2 separate regions of the Homo sapiens genome follow, and region 1 is reported to be linked to region 2. Evidence: microRNA targets listed by miRTarBase, many of them from high-throughput screens and not tested one by one. Region 2 holds a microRNA gene; the other region holds the end of a gene's coding sequence.
The links. Region 2 holds the annotated microRNA hsa-miR-149-3p (AGGGAGGGACGGGGGCUGUGC, at 2,296-2,316, opposite strand). A microRNA usually pairs through its seed, bases 2 to 8, with sites in the 3' UTR of a target mRNA and lowers its output. Matches are read on the target gene's strand: a 7mer-m8 pairs with bases 2 to 8, a 7mer-A1 pairs with bases 2 to 7 and ends in A, and an 8mer does both.

Region 1: miRTarBase lists NKX6-2 as a target of hsa-miR-149-3p. Seed matches in the 3' UTR shown: 7mer-m8 at 6,088-6,094.

What each region holds. Positions count from the first base shown.
Region 1 is chr10:132,778,653-132,785,751 of GRCh38, forward strand. It overlaps NKX6-2 (NK6 homeobox 2), which reads right to left. Exons shown (of 3, transcript NM_177400.3): 1 at 6,891-7,099; 2 at 6,628-6,800; 3 at 4,529-6,518. The coding sequence ends at 6,264. INPP5A (inositol polyphosphate-5-phosphatase A) reads left to right here. Exons shown (of 16, transcript NM_005539.5): 14 at 2,197-2,265; 15 at 3,209-3,296; 16 at 3,385-4,828. The coding sequence ends at 3,289. Among named protein-coding and RNA genes, the nearest start is that of NKX6-2, 3.9 kb to the right of the region's middle.
Region 2 is chr2:240,451,260-240,458,371 of GRCh38, reverse strand. It overlaps MIR149 (microRNA 149), which reads right to left and starts at 2,371; the gene lies at 2,283-2,371. The region is part of intron 1 of GPC1 (glypican 1); the gene reads right to left. It overlaps GPC1-AS1 (GPC1 antisense RNA 1), which reads left to right and starts at 1,672. Exons shown (of 3, transcript NR_161169.1): 1 at 1,672-1,775. RefSeq lists enhancers at 1-468, 2,421-3,071 and a silencer at 5,567-5,616.

The DNA.
Region 1 (7,099 bases), not on the chromosome of region 2:
GTGCAATCGGAAGGAGGCTGGAGACTCTGGTGGTTCCACTGCCAGCCTGGTGGGCTCTGCCCCCTCTCCACTGTCCCAGGCCCAGAGCAGGGACAGGAGCCCCCTACTAACCCCGACTTCAACACCAGCTGTGTGAGGCTCCAGTTGTCCCTCACTGCCCATCTGTGTCTGTGCCAGACGGCACCAGACCCCAGGCACAGCAAACACCTGGGTACAGGTGTGCCCTCAGCAGGGCGGGGACCTCTGCAGCCCTGGTCCCTGAGATGCACCCTGCTGGCCTCTGCCATGTGGCTCTGTCTGCCGGGCCGGGTTCCTTACTGTTCCTTCCTACATCCTGGAGCACCCTGGGTGCAGCCTGCCCTCCGTCCCTGGCTGTGCTGTGAGGAGCCTGCCTGGTGGGGGCCTGGGCTGGAGGCGGGGCCCCTTGGCCAGAAGTCCCTGGGGTCTGCAGCCAGCCTGGCTCCTCCGCAGCCCCACCTCTGGCCTGTGGGCAGGGCCTGTGCCCATCATTGAGGAAAGTGTGCTGGCCACAAGCCCAAAAGCCCAGGAGTGGGCTCGGCCTGGAGCCTGGCTGTGGACCTGCCACTGCCCCTCTGGCTGGGCTCACTGGTAGGCACGCCAGTCCCTCGGTGCCACATGGTGGGTGCTCCCATCTGCCAGTGCTGAGAGCGGGTCAGGCATGTGGAGCCCAGGGCTGCCACCAGCGGGGCAGGAGCCTCCCGGGGACTCGGGCACAGATGCCATCCCCTGGGAAAACGTCGGAGGTCACGCGAGTGCAGATTGGTGAGCAGCGCCCAAGGGCAGAAGGCTGGCAGGGCTGTGGCCTCCCCACATTGTGCTGCCGCTGCCAGGGCTCCACCAGCTCAGAGCAGGGCAGCGTTGCAGCCCGTTTTCCATTCACTCACAGCCTCTCGGGTTCTCTGGATCCGGGACTTGACACTTTATGCTCAGGGTGGGGGACAGAGCCTCACAACACACACCTGGCGGCCTTTGACAGCCCCTGCCTTCTGGGGCTGGAGTTTGGACAGGCTCTCCCCATGGGGCCACCCAGTGGGCAGCGGGTGTGCAGGACAAGCAGACGGGCGCCGGGCGCGCTCCGCAGCCTCATCCATCATGACACGCGCCGTCACCTCGTCACCAAGCTCCGTTCTGCCTCCGGAGCCCTAAAACACCAAAAGGGGCTCGGGACGCGGGCGGTGCTGCTTGGGGAGCCTCGGTGACAAGTGTTCAGTGAGGTGTGCCGCACGCTGCCTGTGCCCGCCGTAATTTGTTTATCTGTCCAAAGATTATGCAGTTGAAAATCCACAATTTTATGCTGCCTTTGTAAATTACCACGCTGCGTTTGATGAATGTTTCTCCACTTCTGCGGAGGCGCCGCTTCACCCGCGAGAGGCGGGAAGGTGCTCATGCATGCGGTGCCGAAGCTTGTTTTCTCATTCTTTCTGGCAGGCGCCCATGCTGGAAAGTAAATCTGACCTTGAGCTTCCCACTGCATTAAAGATAACTCAGTTTTACCTGGATAGTCTCAGATGCTCCAGCTGTGGATATAAAATTCCAGCCCAACCAGAGCCGAGTGCTGACCAGCAGCAAACCCCTTCCGGAGGCGCCCGGAATACAGGCACCTGCTGGGAAGTGCGCACACAGCCGTGAATTACTGTGCACAGATTGCTTTGTGTAGTGGTGTGGAATTCGGTGTCTGTTCTCGTTTGAACACTGAGTTCTAGGTTAATAGAACAGTCAAAAACAAATCAAAGTGGGAAGATTGGAACTAGATGGGCTGCCGCACTCAGAGGAGCACACCTGCACAGAAAGCTGGGGCGCACACACTCCTGTGAACAGGGTCCCCTGCAACTCCCCTGAGAGCCCAGGAGCATGTCCGGGAGAGGGGAGCTTGGGAGCCGGGCCAGCACCCGCGGCTCCCCACGCGACCCCTCCTAGAGGCAGATACCTGTTGTCCAAAAGGGCCAGGGTCAAGGTGCTGAGGCGCTGCCACATCACCAGAGCCTTTGGTCCATGAGCTGGCCTCTCTCTCAGGGGCCAGGCAGGGCGGGTGGCAGAGGCTGGGGAGGTACTGGCAGGGGCCGACATCCCCATCTCTCTGCCCCCACAAAACCCTGATGTTCCTGCCAGTCAGCTCCCAACTGGACCCAGGGTGCCCCACCTCCCCACACTCACCTGTCTGTTTCCCCTTTCCAGTCGGAGAGCGAGGAGAAGGTTGTCACCTATGACCACATTGGGCCCAACGTCTGCATGGGAGACCACAAGGTGACATAGACTGAGGTCCAGGGGCCAGGCTGGGGGACCAAGGGGAAGCTAGGGGGCCGGGGGGCTGGGGCCAGTGGGTGGGCGGGTGCTGGGGCTGGCAGGCAGGTGGGCGGGGGTTGGCCAGTCTCTCCTCTCCTGTTCTCCTGTCTTCTTAGTCTGACTACAGAGTAGGCCAAGTTGGTCTGTTTTTATTTAATTTTAATAAAATATCATAAGCTAGGTGGGTAAGTAGGAAGAAGGCAGAAATGACGTTACAATAGAATAAAATACATAATTTAATATTTGTAAAAAAATGTCCACAGCTGATTGTTTCTGAAGGCTGTTTTGCAAATATGCAGCTTCAGTGTTTTAATGGCCTTCTTGGGGCAGGCTCACTGTCAGCCGAGGAGCCGGGGTGAGGGCGCTCCCCACCGTGTGCCAAGGGGCAGCACTGGCACAGATCGTTTATTCAGGCAACTGCACCTCGAGAGTGTGCACAGGAGACAGATCAAATCTCATTTTCAGCCAATAAATGAGTTAGCTTCTTCCACGTTGGAGGCCCAGAGCTGTGAGCCCCAAACACACCCGGATAAGACGCTGGACCTGCCAGGTGCGGCAGAGCCGAGGACGGGAGAGCCTTCCTTCCCCGCTTCATTTGGGGCCTATTTAGCCATTCTTTTACATCAGTTTTTCCATTAATTTTTTTACCTGGAAATAACACCTTCCTTGCAAAACCTCTCATGGCCGGCCTGGCTCCAGTTCCACATTCACGGGGCCCCCAACCCCTGCGCTGCCGTGGCTGTGCACAAGGGCCGAGCTGCCTCTGCTGGCCATCAGCTCCTCCCAGCCCGGTTCATGGCTGCCCTGGTGAGACGCAGGGTCTGGGGGTGCAACGGGAGGCGGCGGCATGTGCTGTGCTGTCCCGCGTGCGCCGTGCTGACACCGTCCTCTCTTCCTGCTGCAGCCCGTGTTCCTGGCCTTCCGAATCATGCCCGGGGCAGGTAAACCTCATGCCCATGTGCACAAGTGTTGTGTCGTGCAGTGACGTGGTGGTAAATATGACTCCTCCCTCCAGTTCAGCTTTTACGCAGCTTTTCCTGGTGCGTTTGTTCCTTTAACAAATTACGAATTCCGTGACAGGGAAGAGATGCCAGCGCCACGAGAGGACACTTCGTGAGCCTCCCTGTAGCCGTGGACCGAATACGCACTCTTGAAAGCTGCATCGAGAACCCGCCCAAGCGCCACCTGCTAGACGGCCAGCCCCACACTTCGCTTCAGCCTCCGGACCATTCCGGAGCAGCCTCACATACCTCACTGTCTCGTCTGTCTATGTGACATTAAGTAGAAATATTGGTTTTTTTTTTTTTTTTTTAAATAAGTCACAGTCCTGTTGTCAAAACTCTAATAGACAGCAAAGAGGGTCTGTACCGTAGACTTCACAGTTTTCAGTTTTTAATGATTGCCAGTGGAGGGGCTTCTTCAGCACAGAGACCCCCCACTGTGTCCAGGGACCCCCTCTGCCAGGTGGAGGTGTGTCCAGGGGCTGGGGAAGCCGAGACGGGCACTCCCTCTGCCGGCCGGCAGCGTGGCCCTGAGCATGGCAAGGGGGTCTGTCTCTGCCGATGCTCCTTCCGCGGCACTGACTCTGCGCCGTGTCACATGGTTTTTGAATCACACTGCAGCTGCTTTCCATTTTTATATATATATAAATATATATAAATATATACTTTTTAAAAATAATTTATAAATCTTACCAAAACTTATGCTAAATATACTTTCCAGTATGAACGCACAGGAGAGTCCCATCAGCAGGCGGCATTGGAGTCTAGGAGCTCAGCTGTGTGTCCATCAACACACAAATTCGTAAAAAACACACATGGCCTCGCCATCGTGGGTAAAATCGGCCCCACAGCACGTCTGCACCAGCGGGCCGTTACTCCCATGCCGTTCTTCTGTGTAATATTAAGAACTGAATGTGAAGTTTATAGCTAGCCTGGGTGTACCTTTTAAGAATTTTGTAAACCGTTTGTCTGTCTTTTGTTACTGTTTTATGGTGCCAAGTATCCTACGTTACAACAATAATATCATGGGAGAAATAGAAATAGCCTAGTTTGCTTCCAATAGAAACTGCTTTTAACATGGGCTGTATATAAAAATATTAAAGAGAAACAAAACTGTACATTTCCTCATTGCTCCGCTACAGACAACCCATGTCATAACCTTGTTGCAAATATTTTTCTCCTATAGCAGTAAGTACAGCATTAGAAGGTGATTAGAGAGTCTGTTGATGAAACACAAATGTATGTTTTATTGATTTTACTTTAGAACACTACAGAGTTCCTGGACCGGGTGAAGGCATTAGCTGGGTGTTTGTGTGGGATAAATACTACCACTGCAAGTGACTGCTGTCCGCTGCGGAATCTGTTCTTGGTGGAAGCACAGGTCCGTGTCGCTGCTGTGGTTGCCGCTGTCCGCGGTTCAACACGGAGTCCGCCCCGCGGGTTTCAGCTGTTGGTCGTTCTGAGGGGCCTTTGGAAGTGACCGGTCTGGTTCCTAAGCAATAAAATTGACCGTGGTGAAAATAGTCCCGTGTTGCTTTTTCTTCCTTTCCCTTCTCCTGCCACCTTTGAAATGCTAACTCAGGGGAGCGGCCTCCTGTATAGCCTGTTATTTGAGATCAAGCTCATTAGAAATCCTGGAATTTCACTGTATCACACGCTGTCACAAAACACTAAGCCGTTCATTGAGAGGAGAAACACAGCCTTTTGGACTTTCTACTGTAATAAAGGATTTATCCCTCAACATTTTAAAACGGGATTATATCAACGCTTTGCCTTCCTCAAAACTTTAAGAAGCCCCTCTGCTCTGAGCTGAGAGGGGCTCCCCACAGAAAAGCGTTGCTTCTGCCCTTCGAGTTGCTTCCTTGTAAAGAAGGCTGCTAAGAGCCTAAAACAAAACGCGCCGAGTTTAAGCCCTTTCTATTTCCCTTTAACGCTTCCGCAAATGCCAAGAGAAATCGTACCACCGCAGTGATATCATTATTTACATTTAATTTTTAAAAATTAAAACTCAACAGCCACGCCCATTAAGATGCAGCGATGGGCAGCCCCGGCCACAGAGGCTGCGGGAGGCTGGAGGGGTTTTGTCAGCCGCAGTCACAGCCCCGCGGAGCTGGCGGCATTTCAGGGCAGGAGACGGGTCCCCCGAGCCCCCGGCTGGGCGCTGCGGGCCTTGCCCAGGGGGCCTCCGGCTCCCTGACCCCGCGTGACCCACGGGAGGCCCCGCCGCTCCGCGGGCGGAATTATTTCGGATTTCTCTTTGCGGTCCTAGTTCGGAAGAAACTGCTTTCCACCGCGGGAAGATCTGGCGGGATGGTGACCGAAGGGCCTCCGTGCAGCGGATCAGACCCGGTTCCACCGGCTGAGCCCAGGGCGGGCCTATGGGATCCGCTGATGCGCAGAGGGACTTTGGAAATAATCAGAGCGAAGCCCTCGGCCAAGCGGGAACGGGTGCCCGGTGGCAACGAGTACGTGGCCCCAAAGCGGGAAAACGGAAGAAGAAAAACCTCCCGCGGGGACTCGAGGCGGGTACGCGGCTCACCCGCCCTTTCGGGAACCCCCAAGCGCGTCCGAATCCGCCCCGAGGCGAGGCGGGCCGGGCCGTACCTGCTGCTCCGTCCCCGGCTCCGTCCCGGGCTCCTGGCGGCTGTCGCTGCGGTTCCTTCCCGCGGGCCGGGCCCCTTCCCTGCGCCTTCGCCGCCTCCTCGCGCCTGCCCGGGGCCCGCAGCCTCCGCACCGGGAACCCGGAGGACCCGAGGCGGGCGCAGGGGCGAAGCCGGGGCCGGGGAGGGGCCGCCTCGCTCCGGGTTCGAGACGGAAGAAACACGCGGCGCAGGCTCCGGAGCGACGGCTCCGACGGGGACCCGTTAAATAATTTATTGATGATACAAAGCGACTCGCGCCCACCCGGGGCCGCCCCCGGATTCTGCAAAAATAGATTCGCCCCCACCCCGCGGGTCCTCACAAGGCGTCCCCCGCGCCGCCGCCGCACGGGCTGACCAGCGCCAAGTTCGAGGGTTTGTGCTTCTTGAGCAGCCGCGTGATCTTCTCGTCGTCCGAGTTGGGGTCCAGGGGCCGGTTGTATTCGTCGTCGTCCTCCGCGTCCGAGCCGCCCACCTTCAGCTTCTCGGCGTCCGAGTCCTGCTTCTTCTTGGCCGACGCCATCTCCACCGCGTGCCGCTTGCGCCACTTGGTCCGGCGGTTCTGGAACCAGACCTGGGAGTGGACGGGGCGGTCAGGCGGCCGCGGGGCCCGGGGCTGGCGCTGGGGCCGTTCGCAGGACGCGGGCCCCCGGCTCTGCTCTCCCGAGCCCCGCCGCGCTCACCTTCACCTGGCTCTCGGTCATGCCCAGCGAGTAGGCGAGACGCGCGCGCTCCGGGCCCGCCAGGTACTTGGTCTGCTCGAAGGTTTTCTCCAGCGCGAAGATCTGCTGGCCCGAGAAGGTCGGGCGCGAGTGCTTCTTCTTCCCGTCCTTGTCCAGGACGCCGCCGGCCGGGGCTGCAAGGGAGGGGAAGGGAGGGAGGTCAGCGGCCGGCGGGGTCCCCCTCCGCGCCCACCCGCCCCGCACCCCCCGCGCGGGCCACTCACCCGGGCCAGCCAGACGCGGGTCCCTCCAGGGCGCGCCCTGCACCACGCCGGGCCAGAAGATGGGCGGGCGCCCCGGCAGCTCGGCCAGGGGCTTGGGGTAGCCGCGCGCCACAGCGGCCGCGGGCCCGAAGTAAACGCCGGCGGACGACGCGAGCCCGTTGAGCCGGGGCAGCCCCCCCAGGAGGCCCCCGCCCGCCGCGCCCACGGGC
Region 2 (7,112 bases):
TGCCATGAGCTACTCTGCTCCAGCGTCCGAGGCAGTGACAGCGGCACTGCCATCAGAGACAGCTTCACCTCCTTGTGGGGAGTGGGGACAGGACAGGCTTTGAGTCAGCTCTCAGCCCTGCTGTGCACACCTCAGGGCCCACCTGGAATGGGTGTGTGGCATCAGGAAAAACTGCATTTTTTAAAGGGTGTGCATCGCACTGTGATGAAGGCTGCCGCAATCCTCATTTTATTAACCAGAAAACCGGGGCTTACAGGGATGAGGTCTCGTCCCAGCTATACAGTGAGGGGGCAAGTGGTTCCGGCTGCCTAAGCTCAGGACTCCACACTGACGGGGCCACACTGTTCCTTCTGGGCCTCGTCCCCCGCCTCTAAGGCCCTCCTGGTGCTGGCCTAGGTCAGGCACAGTGGAGAGGTGGAAGCAGGAGCCTGGCTTGGTCAGAGGGGTGGGGTCAAGGGGGGGCGTTGTCAGCAGGAATTCCAGCAACTTTCCTCAGGACTGCCGCCTCAGGGGCCTGTCTCATCCTGTTCTGGGACCCTGGGCCAGGGTGGCTGGAATGCAGCAGGTCCTGCATTCTTTTACGCCCTCCTGAGGGTCAGCAGGAAGTGAAGGCCAGGCCAGGGAGGAGAGGCAGGAGAGGGAGCCAGGACCGGGACCGAGGGCGGGGTCAGCCCGGGCAGAGGCACCTGGCTCGAGGCTGTCCTGGGGGAGCTGGCAGCAGCTCCAGCCCTGCCTGGAGGTGGGAGCAGGGATCTGTAGCCCCACTGCAGGCAGGGCCTGGAGCAGCGCAGGCAGTGCCCTACCCGCTTACTGCAAGAGAAGTCACCCCTCAGGCCTGGGGTCCAGGAAGCCCTTACCCACTAGAGGCCATCTGGGGTGGGGACCCAGGACTAGGTAACTACCCAGAGGTTGAATGCCTGGGTCAGACTGAGTTTGCTGATCTTCCGCACCCTCTAAGTACACACACTCAGGGAGGAGCCCGAGACAAGAGAAGGGAACAGAGAACCCGAATCCGGGCTTGGGCGGCTGCCGCTTGGCCCCTGTAGCCTCTGTGCCTGCTGACATGACAGCAAGGAGACAGGTTGTCAGAGGGGCCTGGGAGAGCGAGGGAGGGCCGAGGTAGGGGTTCTTATCCTGGAGCGCTCCCTCCTTGCCCTCTTTTCCTGTCTGAGTTCTGGAATGTACTGATGCAGGGGGCTCTGGCTTGAGCTAGAGGGGGAGGGAGTCCTCCGCAGGGGCTGCAGGTCCAGGGATTCCCCAGGGCCTGGACTTACATGTGCCCATGCTGCAGACAGAGCGGGAATGGCAAGTGCACCTGCGCCCCCCGCCCCTCCTTACCTCCAGATGCCTGCTGGAGGGGGAGTTGGGGGTCCAACAGAGTCTGGGGCCAGGAGGGCCTTGTGGGAGCCAGCTGGGGTGAGGACAGAGCCCGGCTCTGAGAGCCCTGGGGCCTAGTAGAGAAGGGGTGCTCCTTCCCCACTCCTCACATGGGTGGGAAGGCGCCCTCAGGCAAGAAGACTGGGACACAGGTACACTCGCCAGGGACCATCCTTCACTCTGCAGCCTTTATTCACTGATGGGATTCTGCCCCAGTCCCACCCCCGTGGGGGCAGGATTTAGAGCAGGAACCGCCCCTCCGGGTCCTTTCCTGGGGCCTGTGCCAGGCTGAGCAGACTCAGGAGGCGTCTCTCCGAGGGTGTGGGCTGTGATGGGGCCCTGTGCACCCATCCAGGCTGCCCAGACCAGGAGAGCACAGGTCAGCCGGACACATGATGGTAATGGGCTGGGCAGTGGGAGGGAAACGTGCCTGGGGGAGGGGGTGGCAGGTGCCAGCTGAGCTTCCCGGTGACACACCCTGGGCTCAGCTGAGATGGGCTCAGCTGTGACGGGGCACCCAGGCCAGGCTGGCTGGGCCACAGGAACCGAGTGAGCTGGTCCAAGACTCAGGACTAGGGCTCAAGCACTCCTAGGGAGGAGGGTGGGTGGCGTCCCCCGCCGGCTCCTCCTGTGCCCCTCCCTCGCGAGGTCCCGGCGGACCCACTCCCCAGCCCCCACCACGCAGACGGGAGAGGCTGACGAGAGGCATGGAGAGGTGAGGCCCGAAACACCCGTAAGATATGGGAGCTCCCCCCACCTGCAGGTTCTGAGGGGCTCCTCGGCGCCGTCAGCCACCTCTCACACCCCCTCACGGCCGCGCACCGGCCCCCGCGCCTCAGCCTCCCCCGCCGACCCCTCAGCCCCGCCCGGCCAACTCGCCCAGCCGGCCCGGCGACCTGCGTTGTTCCAGCTGCCCCAGCACAGCCCCCGTCCCTCCCTCCCTCCTCGGACAAGCACGGGAGTGAAGACACGGAGCCAGAGCTCGGGCGCCGGCCTGGGAGCCCCCGGCAGGCTGGACGCAAGGCGGGCGAAGGCCTGGGAGCCTCGGGCAGGCTGGATCGAGGCGGCCCCCTGAGGCCCGCTGCAGGCTGGACGCACGGCAGTCAAAGGCAGGAGGCCTCCCGCTGGCTTCCTTCTGCGGAGCTCCGGCCCGGCGCAGGCCGGGGCCACAGGTTGTGGTCCTGGACATGAGATGGCAGAGGCCGGCTCTGCAGAGTCCCCCTGCAGGGCGGCAAAGCAAGCCCCCTCCTGGAAGAATGCCAGGGGCTGGGGCCTTTCTGAATGGAGAGCAATGTGCCCAAGACCAGCTGTCATCTTAAATCTCCCCACCCAGGGGCCTCCCCACCCCCAGGGGCCTCCCCACCACTTCTCTCAGCTCAACACCTGGGGATAGAGAGGCCTCAGGCCAGGAGGGAACCCTCCCCATGTCCCTCTCCCTCTCCTTCCTGGCCTTTCTCCTCCTCCAACCCAGAGGGAGGCATTTTCCAACCTAGGGGGTGAGTCCCGGCAGCCCATCCCCTTCCCCCCGTGCAGGGAGGCATCTGGGCCCTTCCGGCCCACCCCTCCCTCTGGCCCTGGGGCTGCTCAGGTCAAGGTCACCGGGCCTGCTCCCCGCTGGGCCAGGGACTGGACCCTCTCTTCCCTGATCCCTGGGCTGAAGTTGCTGTAGCCGACCCATCCTTCCACAGCGCTCCCCTCCCTCAGTCACTGGGACACTTCCCTTCCCCAGTGCTCTGAGGATTTTTTTGGGGGGGAAGGGGATTATTTGTTTAATGGCAGATTCATCCCCCACCTCAAACCCAGAGTCTCCAGTTCCCAGGCTCCTGCTCCTCAGGTTAAAGCACAGAGCTCTTGCTCCCTGGCTCGTAGGCAGCTGCTGTCTCGTTCCATCTTCCCCCTCCCGATCCTGACGGTTCTGGACCACCCCACTCTGCTGCTCCTCACTAAGCCCCCACCAGCCTTAACTTTGGATACCTTTTAGGTCATGCATTCTCGTCCCCTGCTGACATGTCCCCACCCCGCAGTTTCCTCTTGGTCATCAGCACCTTCACCCCAAAGCTTTAGGCGAGACTCCCATCCTGACAGTGGCCCCCATCCCCAATGATGGACCCAGACCTCATTTGTCCAGACCCAGCCTGGCAGCTGCCCGTGACCAGTGGCTCTGGAGCCCTCCCAAGGAGAATGCAGAGAGATGATGGCGCCACGCCACGCCCATCCCTCCAGAAGCTTCCACGGCTCACACAGGAGGTGCAGACTGTAAAGCCGGCTTTATCCACCTTTACAGCCTCGTCCTAGACACTCAGTGTCAACAGACTCGAATGCCTAAGGTACCGGAATTTGGCGTGGACAGTCAGCCTGCATTGCCTCCCACGGTGCTGGAGTAGGGCTGTGTGCAGAGCTCCAGGCACCGCAGCCCCCCAACACGCAAGGGAAGAGCCTAGGCCTCCCCGCTCCTGCCCTCTACTCAGCTCTGCACCCGGCAACGGGGCCTTCCTGGCTGGCCGATGGCTGCGAAGGCTTTCCCCAAGCCCGAACCCTCTTCTCGAAGCCTGCCCCAGCCCCTGGCCCATCTGCTCTCGGACCCCAACCAGCTCCGGTGGCTGTGGCATCCTCCGGCACGTCCAGCAGCCTCCTGGGGTGAGGGTGCACTGGACAAACGACCCAGGGGGTTTCCTGGGGACCACCCACTGCCCAGGCTGCAGAGGATCTTTTCCTCACTTTTGCCCCATCCTCTAAGAAGCCTGCGCCCCTGGCCAGTCCCTGTCCGCCTGGGCTCCTGACGTCTGAGCCAGAGGCAGCCTTGGCCCCACCTGCGAGGTGGACCGGCCACGGCATCTCAGCTCCTCGTCAACGGCATCCACGGCCCCCAGACTCACCCCATCGTGCTTCCCTCCCCTCCCCACACCCCTGCCGTCTGCCCGAAGCCCCCCCGCCACCATTTCACCCAAATGACAGCGTCGCCAAGGAGCCCCTCCGCCGCCGCAGAACCTCCGCCGCGCACTGCGACCCGAAACCGAGGGGCGTCGTAGGGACACCTCTGCCCCGGGTGGGAGGGTCCGCGCCCCAGGCCGGCTAAGGCTCCTGTCACCCGCGGCTGCTTGCGAGGGCGACAGGCGTGAAACCGGCCCCGGCGGCGGAACAAAGGCTCGGCGGCACCGGCGGCAGCGTCGCCGCCCTGGGGGTCCCGGGCGCCCCGATGCCAGTCGCCAGCCGCCGCGGCCAGGGACGAAGACGGCAAACCGCGCAGCCGGAGCGGGTGCGCAGGGGTCTGGACACGCAGCAGCGCCGGCGGCCCGGCGAGGAGGGGGCACTGGTGCAGTGGGCGCGGCGGGGAGGGAAGGGGGCGGGCGGGGAGAGGGGGCTGCGGCGGGCAGGCGAGGGGAGGGGGGCGCCGCGATTGGCGGGGAAGGGGCTTGTCGCAGCGGGTGCGGCAGGCACGGGGGTGGGGGAGGGGGCTCGAAGGGCTGCGACGGCCCGGGGAGGGGGATGGGCCTGGCGGAAGAGGAAGGGGGGCCCCGGGGCGGCGGCAGGCGATGCGGGAGCGGGGCGGGCGGAGGGAGCGGGGCGGGCGGAGGGAGCGGGGCGGGCGGAGGGAGCGGGGCGGGCGGAGGGAGCGGGGCGGGCGGAGGGAGCGGGGCGGGCGGTGGGAGCGGGGCGGGCGGTGGGAGCGGGGCGGGCGGTGGGAGCGGGGCGGGGACGCCGGGATGCGGCCCGGGAGGGGTAGGGGTAGGTGCAGCTGGGGCGACGGGTGGGGTGGGACTGGGGACGGGCCACGGACTCCCGACAGGAGGGGCGGAAAGGGGATGGGGCTGCGGCGGCCAAGCGGGGCAGGACGGAGCGGAGGATGGGACAGAGGCGGTGGGGACGAGGAGCGGGTGGAGATGGGGGTGGCGCGCCTGCGGATGCGGGTACGGTGGCGCTGCGGGAGAGGTCCTCGGGCCTGGCTTCCAGCGCGGCGGCGGACGCGGGACCCCCTTCGCAGCGGCGGCTCCAGCGGCTCCGGGCGGCGCGCGGGCTCTGGGTGCAGGTGCTCGGGCCGGGGAAAGGCGGCGGAGCGGGGCCGGGCGGAAGGGCTCGCAGGAGGCGAAAAGCCAGCGGGGGACGAGGGCGGGCTGCGGTCCGCCGGGCGCGCGGGAGACTCTGGCCGCAGCCACCCCGGGCAGCGCCGCAGCCGCACTGGCGCGCACGGCCGAGGGCGGTGGCTCCCGGCGCGGGGACGAGCGTCCTCCCGCAGCCCCCGCCCCGCCGCGCTCGGCACCGCCCCCGTCTCCCTGGAAACCGCAGGCGGCCGCCCCGGCCCCTCCGGCCAGGTCCCCGCCGCCCTGCGCCCGCCTTCCTGCCCGCCGCCGAGGCCGGGCCCCTCCCTCCCGCCTGCGGGTGCTGCTCCTGTTCTCCGCGGGCAGTCCGGGCCTCCTAGGCTCCCCACTGCAGCTAAGCGGGCCCAGGCCTTGGTGCAGGGGCTCCTGGGTCTCAGCAGGGCCGGCGCTCGGGGGAGCCGGGGCCCCTCCCCGGAGGGTAATGGGGGCGGGGTGTCGGGTTTCTCTCTGTGCTGAAGGTGGCAGCTGACCACCGCTGTCCTCACGCAAAGCTGCCATGGTCATTCCACATCCTCTACCTGCCCCCTCCAGCCCCCAGTCCAATGGCACCCGGGCCTTGACTCCAGACCCCCCTGCCCCTATATCCTGACCTGCTTTCCCTCTGACATACCAAACCCAACAGGCCACATCCTTCCACCAAGTCTCCCACCCAGGTGCCCCCAGCCTGGGAGGTCTATGCTGTGCGCCTCTGGCCCCTCCTTGGACACCAGAGGGACAGCCTCCCGCCAACACCCTCCCCTCCCTGCAGCCCAGGTCCTGCGTGGCTCCCACTGTCCCGGCCCAGCTCCCCACCTTCCCCAGGCCTGCTGACCCAGCCAGACAAAACCACCCACTCACACCAGTTCCCCTCTGGCCGCACTCCGGCCTCTCGGCCGGTCTGCAATGGGCACACTGAGAGCTGCTGGACAGACCACCAAGGCAGGCCACAACACCGGAGACCCCCAAAGACGGGGCTTTCACCAGGCAACTCATAAGACTGCTCTCTAAGCTGCCCAGATCCTGCTTGGGGAACCCCTGAGCAGGCCATCCTGCCGGCAGACGCCAGGTCTGGGCGGTGCCGGCCCTGGCATGGCACGACGGCAGGGGTCCATCAGATGGGAGCCTAGTCACAGCTCGGGCCAAGAAGCCGCGTGCCCTGTGCAGGCCTCCCCCCATGCCAGCCTGCTCCACTGTCTGAGGCTCATGCTGTGGCCTCAGACTGGGGATGAAAGGGGATTCAGAATTTGTGTCACGAACCTCCTGCCACACCCAGGACCCGGTGTCTTGGCTGTAAGGCAGAGCCCACTCTTCGAACCCAGGATGAGGTGCTCCCCAGAGGCCGTGCCCCCAGGCCTGGCTCAGCCTTTCTCCTCCTTGGCTTGGTGGAGCTGAAGAGGGCACTCACATCTCTATGCCCAACCCTGCCAGCAGGGTGGAAATTCAGGCAGGCTGTGGGAGGGTGGGGTTGTCCTCCTGGGGCTCTGCCCAGCTCTCCCATCTAGCTTCCCGTACACCCACTGCAGGGGCCACAGGCACCCAAGGAGGCCTGGAAGATGGACTGGCCCTCCCTGTCTGCTACACCCACAGGGGGCACGCTAGAAACGCAGAAGGGGACGCAGCAGCCACATTCCAGTCCACAAAGACGCCGCGCAGGCCCGT